Regions from separate parts of the Homo sapiens genome. Here region 1 is linked to region 2. Evidence: fine-mapped expression QTL. Tissue or cell type: whole blood. Region 2 holds a variant in brackets; the other region holds the start of a gene. All regions are shown on one strand. Distances are between the middles of the regions.

Region 1 (8,190 bases), 270 kb after region 2:
ACCACAAAAGAAGTGTAAATGGCCGGTCCTTGCCTTAACTGATGACATTACCTTGTGAAACTCCTTTTCCTGGCTCATCCTGGCTCAAAGCACCCCCACTGAGCACCTTGCGGCCCCCACTCCTGCCCGCCAGAGAACAAACCCCCTTTGACTGTAATTTTCCTTTACCTACCCAAATCCTATAAAACAGCCCCACCCTTATCTCCCTTGGCTGACTCTCTTTTCGGACTCAGCCCGCCTGCACCCAGGTGAAATAAACAGCCATGCTGCTCACACAAAGCCTGTTTGGTGGTCTCTTCACACGGATGCGCATGAAACTTTATTTATTTTATTTTATTTTATTTTATTTTATTTTTTTATTGATCATTCTTGGGTGTTTCTCGCAGAGGGGGATTTGGCAGGGTCATAGGACAATAGTGGAGGGAAGGTCAGCAGATAAACAAGTGAACAAAGGTCTCTGGTTTTCCTAGGCAGAGGACCCTGCGGCCTTCCACAGTGTTTGTGTCCCTGGTTACTTGAGATTAGGGAGTGGTGATGACTCTCAACGAGCATGCTGCCTTCAAGCATCTGTTTAACAAAGCACATCTTGCACCGCCCTTAATCCATTTAGCCCTGAGTGGACACAGCACATGTTTCAGAGAGCACGGGGTTGGGGGTAAGGTCACAGATCAACAGGATAAGAATTTTTCTTAGTACAGAACAAAATGAAAAGTCTCCCATGTCTACCTCTTTCTACACAGACACGGCAACCATCCGATTTCTCAATCTTTTCCCCACCTTTCCCCGCTTTCTATTCCACAAAACCGCCATTGTCATCATGGCCCGTTCTCAATGAGCTGTTGGGTACACCTCCCAGACGGGGTGGTGGCCGGGCAGAGGGGCTCCTCACTTCCCAGTAGGGGCGGCCGGGCAGAGGCGCCCCTCACCTCCCGGACGGGGCGGCTGGCCGGGCAGGGGGCTGACCCCCCCACCTCACTCCCGGATGGGGCGGCTGGCCGGGCAGAGGGGCTCCTCACTTCCCAGTAGGGGCGGCCGGGCAGAGGCACCCCTCACCTCCCGGACGGGGTGGCTGGCCCGGCGGGGGGCTGATCCCCCCACCTCCCTCCCAGACGGGGCGGCTTGCCAGGCAGGGGGCTGACCCCCCCACCTCCCTCCCGGACCGGGCGGCTGGCCGGGCAGAGGGGCTCCTCACTTCCCAGTAGGGGCGGCCGGGCAGAGGCACCCCTCACCTCCCGGACGGGGCGGCTGGCCGGGCGGGGGGCTGACCCCCCCACCTCCCTCCCGGACTGGGCGGCTGGCCGGGCGGGGGGCTGATCCCCCCACCTCCCTCCCGGACGGGGTGGCTGCTGGGCGGAGACGCTCCTCACTTCCCAGACGGGGCGGCTGGCCGGGCAGAGGGGCTCCTCACTTCCCAGTAGGGGCCGCCGGGCAGAGGCGCCCCTCACCTCCCGGACGGGGCGGCTGGCCGGGCGGGGGGCTGACCCCCCACCTCCCTCCCAGACGGGGTGGCTGCTGGGCAGAGACGCTCCTCACTTCCCAGACAGGGTGGCTGCTGGGCAGAGGGGCTCCTCACTTCTCAGATGGGGCGGCTGCCGGGCGGAGGGTCTCCTCACTTCCCAGACGGGGCCGCCGGGCAGAGACGCTCCTCACCTCCCAGACGGGGTCGCGGCGGGGTAGAGGCGCTCCTCACATCCCAGACGGGGCGGCGGGGCAGAGGCGCTCCCCACATCTCAGACGATGGGCGGCTGGGCAGAGAGGCTCCTCACTTCCTAGATGGGATGGCGGCCGGGAAGAGGCGCTCCTCACTTCCTAGATGGGATGGCGGCCAGGCAGAGACACTCCTCACTTTCCAGACTGGGCAGCCAGGCAGAGGGGCTCCTCACATCCCAGACAATGGGCGGCCAGGCAGAGACGCTCCTCACTTCCCAGGCGGGGTGGCGGCCGGGCAGAGGCTGCAATCTCTGCACTTTGGGAGGCCAAGGGAGGCGGCTGGGAGGTGGAGGTTGTAGCGAGCTGAGATCACGCCACTGCACTCCAGTCTGGGCGCCATTGAGCACTGAGTGAACCAGACTCCGTCTGCAATCCCGGCACCTCAGGAGGCCGAGGCTGGTGGATCACTCGCGGTTAGGAGCTGGAGACCAGCCCGGCCAACACAGCGAATCCCCGTCTCCACCAAAAAAATACGAAAACCAGTCAGGCGTGGCGGCGCGCCTGCAATTGCAGGCACTCAGCAGGCTGAGGCAGGAGAATCAGGCAGGGAGGTTGCAGTGAGCTGAGATGGCAGCAGTACAGTCTAGCTTCTGCTCGGCATCAGAGGGAGACTGTGGAAAGAGAGGGAGAGGGAGACCGTGAGAGGGAGAGGGAGAGGGAGACGGAGAGGGAGAGGGAGAGGGAGAGGGAGAGGGAGGAGAGGCGAAACTTTCAAGAAAGAAAATCTGATTGGCTGAGCTTGCCTCTACCTGAGCTACAGATTCCTCAAAAGTTTAATCAAGGTCCATGGTGGTACCAAGAAAAAAGGACTTTCCTCTACAATCTGAGTGAGATGATAGCTTTGATTGTGGTTGAGGGGCAGGGCATGAGGTAATAGGAGATAAGTTATTAACATGATATGAAATCCAGAACATGAGTGAGAAGGCAGCATGGAGGAGGATTTATGCATTTTTGCTCTAAAGGCAGACTGCATGACATTAGAATCACAGCTCCACATACTGAACTCGATCTTCCTAGACATGTGAAATGGGCATACAAAGAGGACCTTCTTTATAAGCTAGTTGTGAGAATTAAATCGATAATTTATGTTCCAGTCACCACCAAATAATTATTCAATATGTATTAAAAACACTCAAGATGAAAGGTTACCTTTTACAGAGAGGTCTAAGGAAAGCAAGAAAAATTGAAGGCACAAAGAATCTGAGATGCAGAAGCAAGAAACTCCTACATTTTCTGACCAAATGTCTTCAGCCTTCCTGGCAAAGTAGATTCTGCCCATTTATTAGATCTCTAGTGATCTTAGTCTGATATGACCATAATTCCAATACAGAGACAGTACGGATGAACCTCAATGATAGGGACATACAGCAGAGACTCTGGTTGACATCTGTAAATATTTACATATTTTGTAGAATAATAATAATAGAAATACAGAAAACAGCGATAATGATAGCCAACAATTATTGGAGGTTTGCTACATGCTGGGTCCTGCCTTAAGTACTTTTTATGTATTAAGCCATTTAGTACTTACATCAAGCCCAGAAACTTTTATTATCGACATTTTAGGAACAAAGGAACTGAGGCATAGTGAATTCAAATAACTGGGCTGAGTAGCCAAGTTAGCAAGTAGCTAAGGTAGGGCTCAAAGCCTGACACCTGCAATAGATAATGCATTACATTGTCTCACTAAGAGAGACCTCCAACGGTAGCCCTCAGACTTTTAAAAAAAATAAATACATTGACAGTGGGTGAAACAAATGAAATAACTTGAAGAAGAAACAAACTGCAAAAAAGCTTATTAACAGTGTAATAATAAATATGTAATTTTTTAAACCCTAACTCTAGGGGGAAAAAAGCATTCTTTTTCAACTGATTACAAAAACAATCCTGGAAAGTAAAGGAAATAGCTATTCAAAATGATCGTATCTGAAATCTTGGTGTAAGCTGTTTCCTTCATCTGTTTCCTCCACTAAAAAAAAGAAAGAAAGAAAGAAAAAAGAGGTTTAGACTAAATAGAGTCAGAGTTGCAGTGACCTAAACAGGAAGTTGGGCTATTCCCAACTGCCAGTGATCTCTGAAGCCGACTCTGAGGCTCCCTCTTTGCTCTAACAGACAGCAGCGACTTTAGGCTGGATAATAGTCAAATTCTTACCTCGCTCTTTCACTGCTAGTAAGATCAGATTGCGTTTCTTTCAGTTACTCTTCAATCGCCAGTTTCTTGATCTGCTTCTAAAAGAAGAAGTAGAGAAGATAAATCCTGTCTTCAATACCTGGAAGGAAAAACAAAATAACCTCAACTCCGTTTTGAAAAAAACATTCCAAGAACTTTCATCAGAGATTTTACTTGTGAGTACCTGGCAATATACTGTCTAGCCCATAAGAAATAACTTTAATTTCTTTTTCTCGGGGGAAAAGCAGGGTGCTGAGAGGCAAAGAACTGATAGGGGAGGATCACTGTTTATTTGCGTAAAATGAAAATCAGCCCTTCCCTGTAAACAGAGTAAACTCAAACTGCAATCCAAACTTGAGTTCTCAGCATTTTGCATTTAGTTCTTAAGCAAATTTATGTGCAATTTTTATGATTTTAAACCATAAACATTTTTGTAACTAATTGGTGTATGTAGCTTTTTTATAATTTGAAGATTGTAGTAGAATTCTTTACTAATTGTGCTTGGTTAATTGGAAGTTCTTGAAAGTTCGGTTTACCTTTCCATTTTATTTCATAACATATAAAATAGAGACTGTTATTCTTCTATTCAAATAATCTTTCAATACTATTAGTTGATGATATTTAAAATGAGGTATAACCATTAAAATAATCGTAATCTAAATGGAATATTTTATGCCAGCATTAACTAATCTCTCTAAGGAAATATTTTACAATTCTCCAAAGACCAAAGGTCATATTCTGAGATACTTAAACGAGAATACTTACGATCAAGTCTATGTTGTGCAATTTTGTAAATTAAAACAATAGATAACATGCCTACATGATGTACTGTTATGTTCCTGTTATAAAATGTTTGCTTCTAGTGAAAAATGAAAGCATATAATACAGCAGTAAACAACCACAGAAATATAATGAGAGAAACAATTATTTAATTATGAAAAAGCACTCATTAGTATAAAATAATTACCAAAAATAAGGGCCAAGAGTACTACCATGTGGGAAAAAAGAAAAGATAAGCAACAGCCACACTGTGACTCAGTGCTCTGGAAATTAGTCACAAAATGACTTTGTATAACATGAGATAATATAAACACAAAGGGCAAAACTCAAGCAGGAAACATACTGCCCAGAGAGTCATATTTCATGTGTAAAAGCATAATATTTACATGAAAGGGGGAAAGTTGTGACAATTTTGAGAGATACTGCAAAACTTTTGAATAAAATGTGTTAGGGAGGCAAAATCTCCCTAACACATTTTAAAGATTATTTTAAATCTATCATTCTAGTGCATGATTATTTCAATATACAGTGTCCATATCTCATCTAATCCTTAAACTAAAGAGGGATAGTCCCTGAAATTTGGCTGAGTTTGAAATGTTAATTTGTGGCCTACAGCTTAATAAAATTATATGAAATATAATTAGGGATCAACAAAGATTGAAAAATATTAATGTAAATACAGATAACTAATCAAGTAATTTTAAAATAAGAGTAAAACTTTAAAATATTTATTTTTACTGATTTGAGTAGTTATATTGGAAAACCAAGTTTTTCTACTTCAAGTGACCACAGAATCTTGTTGGAAAAGTTTAATGACATATACTACTATTTGATTCCTATCTCTATTAGGTATACTGAATTGGACAAGTTTTTGTTTTGTTTTGTTTCTTTGTTTTTAAGGTACAGTCTGATATCTTTTGTTTTACCACCAATGACTAAATCAAAACTCCTTTGGAAATGTGGTTCCTGTCCAAATGGATTATGTTATCAACTGGTGTTTGATGGTCTGACTGATTGTCCATTTATCAGTCAGATAATCATTTAAGGAAATGATTATCATTTGCTTGTTGATTGTACAACTATTTTGACTTAAATCTTCTGTCATAAAACTTATTGTTAAATTAATAATACATAAAATGATAACATATTTTGTAATAAACTCTAATTTTCAAAACAGCTTAATTATCTTAAAAATTAATTTTCTAATCTTTAGAAATCTTTTGTTTACATCTTTCAAATTCAAGAGGTAAGTGGGCAGGATGGCAAACTAATGGAGAAAAAATGCCAACTTTAGAGACTTAATTTAATGCCAGAGTGCCTATCCATCTAACCAAATAGTAAATATGCTATCAATTCCTTAGGAATGGTTGGCTGATTAAATTCAGTGTCACAAAATTTTAAGGTATCTTTCAACTGATATCTCTACCTAATACAAGAAAAAAAATGCAAAGTAAACATCCTTACAAAAAATAAAAAGGAACAGACAATATGAAAAGTGAAGAAAATTACTTAGACTAGGATTTTCAAAAAAATCTTATCAGTATAAATTAATTAAATTGAATTATAATATAGGTTAAAATGGGTTAATTATATCATCAATTTATTTTTTTCTATGTGGACATGATCTAAGAATTGTACTACAATACAACTCATCTATTCTCAATAAAGGCCTTCTACAACCAGCCATCCTTTTTTGTTTACCATCTATAGCAATTAACTCATTTTAGGAATTAAATTTGGCAGGCTGCCTTTTTAAAACACAAATATATTTTCATGCATTAGTGTCAAAGGTAGATTCTGCTATCTTTTATAGAAATATAGCAGTACTATAATTCTTTCTGATTGCTACAATGTGCATTAGGAGAAACTTGAATTCAATAGACATGTGTTTCTGGATATCAAATCTCACCAGAAACAGGGAAGTGTTCAAGTGTTTCCAGCAAGTTCTCTTCATAATAGACCATCTTTCCTGGCTTTCTGAAATCCTCACTGACTGCTTTCTTGGTGTTATGTATCAATTCCGGGGGCCCAGTCTTCCCATTACCTTTCTCTCCCTGTCTTCACTTCTCCAAGTGTCAGGTGCCAAGTAGAACCACAGCCTGAGATTCAACTACCAGTAGCTACCAGTTGCTGAAGGCAACTTCTTCACCTCTACTTTTCTTCTTCCTCAAACCGACAATAACAGAAAGTATGGGCCCATGTCAAATCCACTGTTTTCTCTTTAAGCCTCTATTTGGGATGCTATGTCCTCTCTTAGTTGGAACAACCAGGTGTTAAAATTACTTCAAAAACAAAAGAATATAAGGACATCATGGCCCATAATAGAAGTTCCAATGCTGCAGTACAACTATCCCAATTGTTCCATGTGATGGACCACAGGTCTCTGTGTAGACTTGGAATTATTGCAAGGAATTACCCAGTCAATATGTGAGTAAAAAATATTATATATTGCTTATTAGGGCATAAGAAAGCTATTTCAACATCAGAAATGTGAAAGTATTCATCAGTAGGACACTGATAAAATGTAAACAGTTTTTATTACCAAGCACAATGTGCCTTTGACACCCTCGAAATATACCACACCCTCAAGTGCTGCCACCACACTGCTGCCAACCTAGTCTATCTCTTCTCCTCTTCTTGACCCTTATCTATTTCTATCCAGTCCTTGAATTCTATGATAATTCATCTGTAAGCATCACTTCATTCCTCATTCCTCATTTCCCAAGGCTTAAAAACAGAGTAAATCTCAGAAACAGGGTAAGTCTCCAGAATAATGGTGTTTATTATGAATATTTTGGTAATATTTTAAAGTCCATTTAGGAAGCTTCAAAGATTAATTTTCATCTCAGAAAATGAATCACAATGGTTATATTAAAATGTAATACAACTTTTCTCTAGTTTTTTGGACATATGGAAAATACTTTACATTTTTAATATTTTTGTCTGCTAATTCTGTTTTTGATGTCATTTCTGTCATTTAGACTTTTCTCATTATGAGTTATATTCTACTGTTCTTTGCATCCCTAGTAATTTTGATGTGGTTGCCTAATATTATGAATTTTACCTTATTGGGTGTTGGTATATGTTGTATTTCTATAAATATCCTTGAGCTCTCTTCTGGGATGTAGTTAAAGTACTTGGAAACTGTTTCCTATTTTGTTGTCTTGCTATTAAACTTTGTTAGGCAAGACCAGAGAATTGTTTATTCTATGGTTAATTTTTTCCTACTACTGTTGCAAACACCTGAGTACTATACTTAATGCTCCATGAACTGAGAGTTTTGCAACTTGGGAACAAAAAATATTCCCTGCTTTACATGTGTGGGCCCCTCTAACCCTTTTAGGTGGTGCTTCACCCAGTCTTTAGACTTTTCTCTTATGAATGCAACAGATCAATATTGAGCTGAAGCCTAGAAGTCCATCTGAAGATCTCTGGATCTTTCTTTCTGTGTAACTCTGTCCTCTCTGACGTTCGGTACTATATACCCTAACTACCTCCTGAGACTGTCTGCTTTGTCTCCCAAACTCAGC
Region 2 (8,190 bases):
AATTCCACAATGAATAACTGAATTATCTCATTTATAATTCACACTGGATCAAAAAAATTGGTTCCCCTCTGTGTAGATCAATTTAATTCAAACCTTATTATCTTCAGAATACAGAGAGGAATACTACAAGATAAACTCTAACTGCACTAGGTGTTTTCTAAGTAGAAGACCAAACACCAAAGGGAATCCCTCTTTCCGACGTCTTTTGATATGACAAGATTTTGCCAGAGTGGAAGTCTAACACTTAAAAAAGCATTCTCATGGCCAAGTAAGAAACTACAGTTGTTGTGGGTATTACAATACAATTACCATATGTACTACATATTAAATTAAACTCAGCATTAAATATGCTTCTAAAATTATGCTGTTAATGATGATAACAGTGATGATGCTGGTGGAAAAAGCCTGTCTTTAGCCCAAGAAAAGTAAGGGAGAAAAATTTAACAAGCAGAAAGCAGACACAGAGTTGGGCATTTTTTTGACTAGGAAAGATAATTTTAAACAAAGACATATAAAAAGAAAAGTAATCCCTTATTTCCCCTATGTGGAAATAATATGAAATATTTATTAGATATATTGGACAAGAGCAGAACTAAGTACTCCAACTGTACTGCAGGATTACAAAAAAATCATCCCTTCACCACAGTGTAAGGTTTAAGGGCAATCTGCAAAAGTATGCATGTTATATAAAGGACAGCAAGATTGCTGCTGCCCTGCCAAGTACTTCCAGTCCCTACCCAGGTCCTACTGAAATAGTGGTGGTCCCAATTAGTTTTATTGATATAAATCTTTAAAGAAAAAGATAAAGCATTTAAAAAGACAAGTCAAAATGCTTCAGGAACCATATATCCAACACAAACTTTATCCTCAAATGAGTTATGTTTCCCTCACACTAATATACTTTTATTTCACTCAAACTAGAGCAATAATCTTCCATACATATGTATATTCCCTGCCCAATAATTCAAAGAAAAAAATCCAAAATGGTTAGCAAATAAAAATATGATAATTAACAGATGCTTTAAATTTGTTTTAAATATTTTTAAGGTTTAAAAGGTGTTTGAAGTTTGTAATTCCTAGTAGGAAAACATTATCTGAATGAATACCCTAATGGCAAACCACTGTAAAATGTTTCAGCTGCATTTGAGGGAGAGGGGTAGGAATTATCTTCAAAGCACCCCAGATCTTTTGATGAGAAGGTCAGAGGTACACTGGTTTGTATTATTGTGACATCTGTAAGGTGATCTTGGTTGCTTTTCCTTCAGCAAGGGCTTTATTTATCAGAAGGGCATTATGCTTGACCTCCAAATTTGGCTCACAATTTACTGATAAGATTCATAACCTTTGGGTTGCTCTGGTATTTTGATATATTTGCTGGGTTCTGAGCCACATCCTGGAAGGCCACCATAACTTCTGGATCCTGCATGGCTGTAAGAACCTCTGGATCACTAAGAATTTCATTAAGCCCAGGCATTCTGGCCACTCCTGGTATGCCCCCTCCGATTCCAGGCATTCTTCCAAGAAAATTACCAGGCATTACCCCAGGAAAGCCACCTGGAAAAGAGCCATACTGAGCTCCTGACTGTTGTCTGGCTGCTTCCTCCCTCTGGGCTCTCTCATGCTCTTCTCATGCCTTCTTAACTCTTTCTACTCTTTCTTTGATCTCTCACCCTTCACATTTTTGCTCATACTTTCTCCGATGTTCTGCAATTTTCTGAGCCCTAAATTGGACTTCTTTCAGCGTTGCACTAGCATCTTTATCATACTCCAATTTACAGACAAGGGCAAGATCATGGGCTGCTCCTTTCCAGTGGCCTGGAAGCCTGTGTGCTTTCCCTCGCCACTTGTAAGGCTGAGCTAAATCAGGATTTATTTCAATGGCTCTGTCACAGTGTTGGATGGCAGCATTTGGCTTCTGTAATTTGACAAAGACACTGGCCCTCTTGGCATACAAAATGGCCAAGTGAGGATTCAGCTTAATGGCATCTGTGAAAACGTCAATGGCTTTCTGCAGTTCACCATCATTTAGGGCTTCAATAGCAGCTACTTTCTTATCATTTGCCTGATCCATCATCTCCTCTGTTATCTCTGCATTTTCATCTCTCATTTCTTGAGGGGCATCAGTGTCTGGTTCAATCACACCTTCATTATCAATTTCTAGATCACTTTCCTCACTTGATGGTTTGTCTGCCTTTAAGTCTTCCTCCACTTTCTTACTACCAGGTTTTTCTTCCTTGGTATTTTCGTCTGATTTAGCTTTCTGAGTAGCAGGTGGTATTTACCCCCCATACTCTCCACCCACACCCTCAGGAAGCACATTTCCTCGGTGTGCAGAACGCTCGGATCCTGCTTACACATTTTCACAAAGGCCCGAAGCTCGTTCACTTTGTGGGGTTCCATGGTCAGGAGGCGGTGGGCGAAGCTGAGGGGCTGTGGCCGGGTTCCAGGCCCAGGCGCTGACTTGGCATGACTGTGCAGAAGGGGGCGGCTGCCGCAAGTCAGAGCAGACTCAGATGGATCTTACTATTTTGAGGTATGTTCTTTCAATACCCAGTTTATTAAAGGATTTTAGCAAGGATTTTGAATTTTATCAAAAGCTTTCTCTGCATCTATTGAGATAATCATGTTTTTTGTCTTCAGTTCTGTTTATGTGATGAATCACATTTATTGATTGTGATACCAACCTTGTTGAACCAACCTTGCATCCTGGGGATGATGCCTACTTGATCATGATGGATAAGCTTTTTCTTGGGCTGCTGGATTCAATTTGCCAGTATTTTGCTGAGAACTTTTGCATTGATGTTCATTACATTAAGGATATTGGCCTGAATTATCTTTTTTTGTTATATAACTGCCAGGTTTTGCTTATAAGGATAATGCTGGCCTTATAGAATAAGTTAGGGAGAAGTCTCTCTTTTTCAATGTTTTGGAATAGTTTCAGTAGGAGTGGTATCAGCTCTTCTTTGTACATCTGGTAGAATTCAGCTGCAAATTCATCTGGCCCTGGACTTGTTTTGGTTGGTGGGCTATTTATTACAGCCTCAATTTCAGAACTCATTATTGGTCTGTTCAGGGATTCAGTTTATTTCTGGTTCAGTCTTGGAAGGGTGTATGGGAGTGTAAATTAGTTCAGCCATTGTGGAAGACAGTGTGGTGATTCCCCAAAGACCTAAAGACAGAAACACCATTCAACCCCACAATCTTATTACTGAGTATATACCCAAAGAAATATAAATCATTCTATTGTAAAGACACATGCACACGTATGTTCATTGTAGCACTATCCACAATAGCAAAGACATGGAATCAACCAAATGCCCATCAGAGATAGACTGGATAAAGAAAATGTGGTACATAGACACCACAGAATACTATGCACCCATGAAAAAGAATGACATCAAGTCCTTTGCAGGGACATGTATGGAGTTGGAGGCCATTATCCTTAGCAAACTAACACAGAAACAGAAAACCAGAAATGGCATGTTCTCACTTATAAGTGGAAGGTAATGATGAGAACACATGAACACATAGATGGGAACAATATACACTGGGGCCTTTCAGAAGGCAGAGGGTGGGAGGAGGGAGAGGATCAGGAAAAACAACTAATGGGTAGTAGAATACCTAGGTGATGAAATAATCTGTACAACAAACCCCCACGACAAAAGCTTACCTATGTAACAAACCTGCACTTGTAC[C/A]CTTGAACTTAAAATAAAAGTTAAAAAAATTCCAAATGTAAAAATATATATATAATATAAAACTCACCCATTTTGTGCATACAATTAAATTATTTCAGTAACTTTACTGAGTGCGACAACCATCACCATAAGTCAGCTTTGGAAGATTTTCATCACCCTAATAACAGCCATCATGCCCATTTAGTTAAGTCTCTTTTCCACAGTGGCTACATGGTGTTCTGCAAAATGAATATACCATAATTTTATTTAGTATTAAGTCTAAAACATCTAGAATGTTTCCTTCTTTTCCCAATTCAAAATAAACTTTAATAAATATCTTTGTGGTCAAACAACAACAACAAAATACCATAATCTGGGTGGCTTAAAAACAACAGAAATTTATTTCTCATATCTCTGGAGGCTGGGAAGTCTTAGAACAAGGTGCCAACAGATTCAGTGACTGGTGAAGACTCTCTTCCTGGTTCACAGATGGCACCCTCTCACTGTGTTCTCACATGTTGGAAGGAGCGAGAAAGCTCTCTGGGGCCTTTTATAAAGGGCACTAATCTGATTGATGAGGGCTTTGCCCCTATGTTCTAATCACCTCCCAAAAGTTCTGCCTTCAAATATTATCGTACTGGGGATTAGGTTTCAACATGTGAATTTTGGGGGGAATACGAACATCCAGACCATAGCAGGCACATTATCAAGTAATTACTGTTTCTTCCATCCAGTTGAGAAATTCTGGGAGAGATAGAGTAGAATATCTCAGACTTATCCCAACTGAGGGAAGAGGTGACTGGTATTGTCATTGGTTTATATTTATTTCAGCCATTCTGATGGGTGTATATTTGTATTACATTGTCCTTTCCCTATTCTCTATATTTTTTGTCCTTCTCATTTTGATGTTTTTTATATATTTGGAGTTCTGTATATATTTGGATCTCTCTCTTCTTTTTAAGCTATATGTGTAGCCAATATCTCTCCCATTGTATGTATTGACTTCTCACACTTTTAATGTCATTTGATTAATAGAAGTTTTACATTTTTAATAGAGTTCAATTTATCAATATTTTCTTTTATGTTTAGCACTTTTTTGGTCTTGTTTACAAACTCTTTGCCTACTCAACACCATTTGTTAAAAAGACAATTTTTTCCATTTAGTTTCTTTCACTTAATAATATGCATTTACGATTTCTCCATATCTTTTCAGGACATGATAGCTCACCTTCTATTAGTGCTGAATAATATTTCATTGTCTAGTTGTACTACAGTTTATTTGTTCATTCACCTACTGGAGGACATCTTGGTTGCTGCCAAGTTTTGGCAATTATGAATGAAGCTGCTATAAACATTCACGTGCAAGGTTTTGTGTGGAAATAAGATTTCAAATATTTTCCATAAATACCAAGGAGCACAACTGATGGATCATACAGTAAGAATAAGTTTAGTTCTGTAAGAACTGCCAAACTGTCTTCCAAAGTTGCTGCAGCATTTTTTATTTTTAGCAGCAAAGTTGCTGCTGTTTCACATCTTCCTCAGGATATATAATGCATGACTCCAACTATATGACATTCAGGTAAAGGCAAAACTTTGAAGAGTAAAAAGATCAGTGGTTGCAAGGGGTTGGGGAGAGCGAGGATGAATAGGTGAAGCACAGAGGATTTTAGGGTGGTGAAATTACCCCGTGGGATGCTGTAATGGTACATAAATATCATTATGAATTTGTCTAAACACATAGAATGTACAACACCAAGTGTGAACTTTAACAATGTGCCAATGAAGGTTCACCAGTTGTAACAAGTGTCCACTGTGACATGGGATGTTGACAGTAAGAGAGGGTGTGTATGTGTAAGGGGCAGGAAGTATATGGGAACTCTCTGTACTTTCCACTCAATTTTGTGATGAACGTATAACTGTTCTAAAACATATTAATACATACATATGTATATTTTATAAATAAATATGTATACAAATATAAATAGTGGGTTATAATTACATATATATATATCCTATTATTTGCTCACTGAATTGTAGCAATTTGTCACAAATTATGTGACTATATTGTGGGGGTGAGCTTCTAGACTCTCAAGTCTCTTATTTTGTATCGTTGAATCAATAGCACACTGTTTTAATTACTATAGAATTATAATAGGTCTCAATAACTAGTGATGTATTTTTCTTCTATTACACATGATTGCTGGAGGTAATTTGGAGACACTGTTGGTCAGATTATTGTTCAGATTCATCTCATTTTCTGAGAGATTTTTGTTTAGTTTCGTTTTCATTCTTTTTTTTCCCTTTAGTAAATATTTGTTGAATTTTGCCAGATACTTTTTATTACATATATTGGGACATTTGAATAATTTTTGTTTTTTTTTCTGTTAATGTTGTGAATAATGTTGACTGATTTTAGAAATTAAATCCTTCCCTGCATTGCTGAATTAAAATTACACTTGAATGGTATTTCTATTCTTCTACAACTCTTTTAAATTTTATTTTCTGTTATTTCTCTAGCTCCTTGAGGTTAGTGCTTAAATAATTGTGTTTTCATATATCACTGGATTCAATTTTCTACTCTTTTGCTTAGGGTTTTTGTGTCTATATTCATGAGGATTACTCTAATTTAATCTTTCTTGTTACATCCTTGTCAGATTTTGGCATCAGTTTATATCTTGATTAGCAGTTCTAGAAATTTAATCTGTTTTATTATTCTTTTAAAGAGCCAAAGCCTGACTTTTACATTTCTTTCATTGTGCATTTTTAAAATAATTTATATTCTTAGCTTTTTTCCTTTGCATCCTATAAATTTTAATTTGCTATTCTTTCTCTAGCTTCTTGAGTTAGAAAATTATATATTTTTTTCTAATTTATACATTTAAAGCTACAAATTGTTCTGAACCATATGTTAGCTGCATTACACAAGTTTGATATATCTTGTCTTCATTAAAATGAAAGTGATTTTTTAATTGATACATAAGAGTTGTATATATTTATGGGGTACATGTTATATTTTGATACATGCATACAATGTGTAAAAATCACATTAGGGTAATTGGGTTATATATCATCTCAAACATTTATAATTTCTTTGTGTTGGGAACATTCCAAACCTTTCCTCATAGGTATTTGAAAATGTACTATAAATTCTTGTTAACTGTAGTTGCCCTACTGGGCTACTCAACATTAAAACTTATTTCCTCTATCTAAGTATATTTTTAACCAACTTTCTTTTTGAATTTTTATTGTGATATTTTCTTTTGCCTATGAATAAGCATGTTGCATAACTTTCTGGTAGATAGGATATATTTTTGTTATTTTGTTATTGACTTTTAATTCCACTCTGGTAAGAGAACATAATCTACATAACTTCAATGTTTTAAAGTTTTTTGGGGTTTCTGCATGTCTCAACATCTGGCCACTTTTGGTAAATTATCCATTAGCATTTGAAAATAAGGTAAGTTCTGAGGTTGTTGGGGACAGCATTTTACATAGGGAATTTGTTAATTATGTTTGTTAGATCTTCTAATCTATAGAAGATTATTTAGTTCTTGTCTACTAATTGTAACAGGTATTTAGAGAGGTTTGTTAATGTCTTCTACTTTTATTAATTGCCTATCCCTTCTAATTCTGATGATTTTTGTTTTAAGTATTTTGAAGTTTCTTTATTTAATGCAAGCAGATTTAGATTGGCATATTGTCTTTTTCTATTAACTCCTTTATCATGATATAAAATTCTTTCGCCGGGCGTGGTGGCTCATGCCTGTAATCCTAGCACTTTGGGAGGCCAAGGCGGGCAGATCACTTGAGGTCAGGAGTTAGAGACCAGCCTGACCAACATGGCAAAACCCCGTCTCTACTAAAAATACAAAAATTAGCCTGCTGCAATGGCATGCGCCTGTAATCCTAGCTACTCCAGAAGCTGAGATGGGAGAATGGCTTGAACCCAGGAGGCAGAGGTTGCAGTGAGCCGAGATCGTGTCACTGGACTCCAGCCTAGGTGACAGAGTGAGACTCTGTCTTAAAAAAAAAAAAAAAAAAATTCATTTACAGCAACTCTTCTTTACATGAAGCACACTTTTTTTCAATATTAGTAAAGCTACATACACATGTATTGCCTTAGCCTCAATTTTACCAGTATATCTTGCAGTCCCTCATTTTCAACATTTTTGTGACCTCATCTTTAACATATGTCTCTTCTAGGCAGTAGTAGGTAGCACAGAAGGTTTTATTTGTTCACTTGTTTGTTTTCCCCATCCAGCCCCCTGTAACTATGTAAAGCTCCATTGAGTCATCTCGGTCCCTCTGTAGCACTCTTCTTCCTAGGTCAATCCCAGAATTCAAGCCTCTAGACAAGGTACAGGAGTTTAACCAGAAACAGCAGAAGAGATTCAGATAGACTCTGACATACTCTAAAATTTTACTTCTTGTAGTGACTTCTGTGAATCTCTGTCTGTATATGTAGTAAATAATTTGACTTTTCAGGTGGTTCTCAGCAGAATTGTTATCCTGTGAA

Which allele goes with the higher level. Positions count from the first base shown, and alleles are read on the strand shown. Sizes are in standard deviations (SD) of each study's normalised expression.
As copies of C replace A in region 2, the expression in whole blood of the gene that starts at base 3,821 in region 1 goes up (moderate effect, 0.40 SD a copy in GTEx).

What was found. PIP is the estimated chance that this variant, and not a neighbour inherited with it, causes the effect. A credible set is the group of variants that fine-mapping cannot tell apart.
Region 1: TFPI starts here. The variant in region 2 is the best candidate, but not a certain one, in a credible set for the expression of TFPI in whole blood (GTEx, PIP 0.55).

The regions. Positions count from the first base shown.
Region 1 is chr2:187,550,066-187,558,255 of GRCh38, reverse strand. It overlaps TFPI (tissue factor pathway inhibitor), which reads left to right and starts at 3,821. Exons shown (of 8, transcript NM_006287.6): 1 at 3,821-4,056. RefSeq lists enhancers at 1-194, 195-779.
Region 2 is chr2:187,819,551-187,827,740 of GRCh38, reverse strand. It overlaps the pseudogene ST13P2. Among named protein-coding and RNA genes, the nearest start is that of TFPI, 270 kb to the right of the region's middle. The variant C/A (reference allele first, on the strand shown) is at 3,696.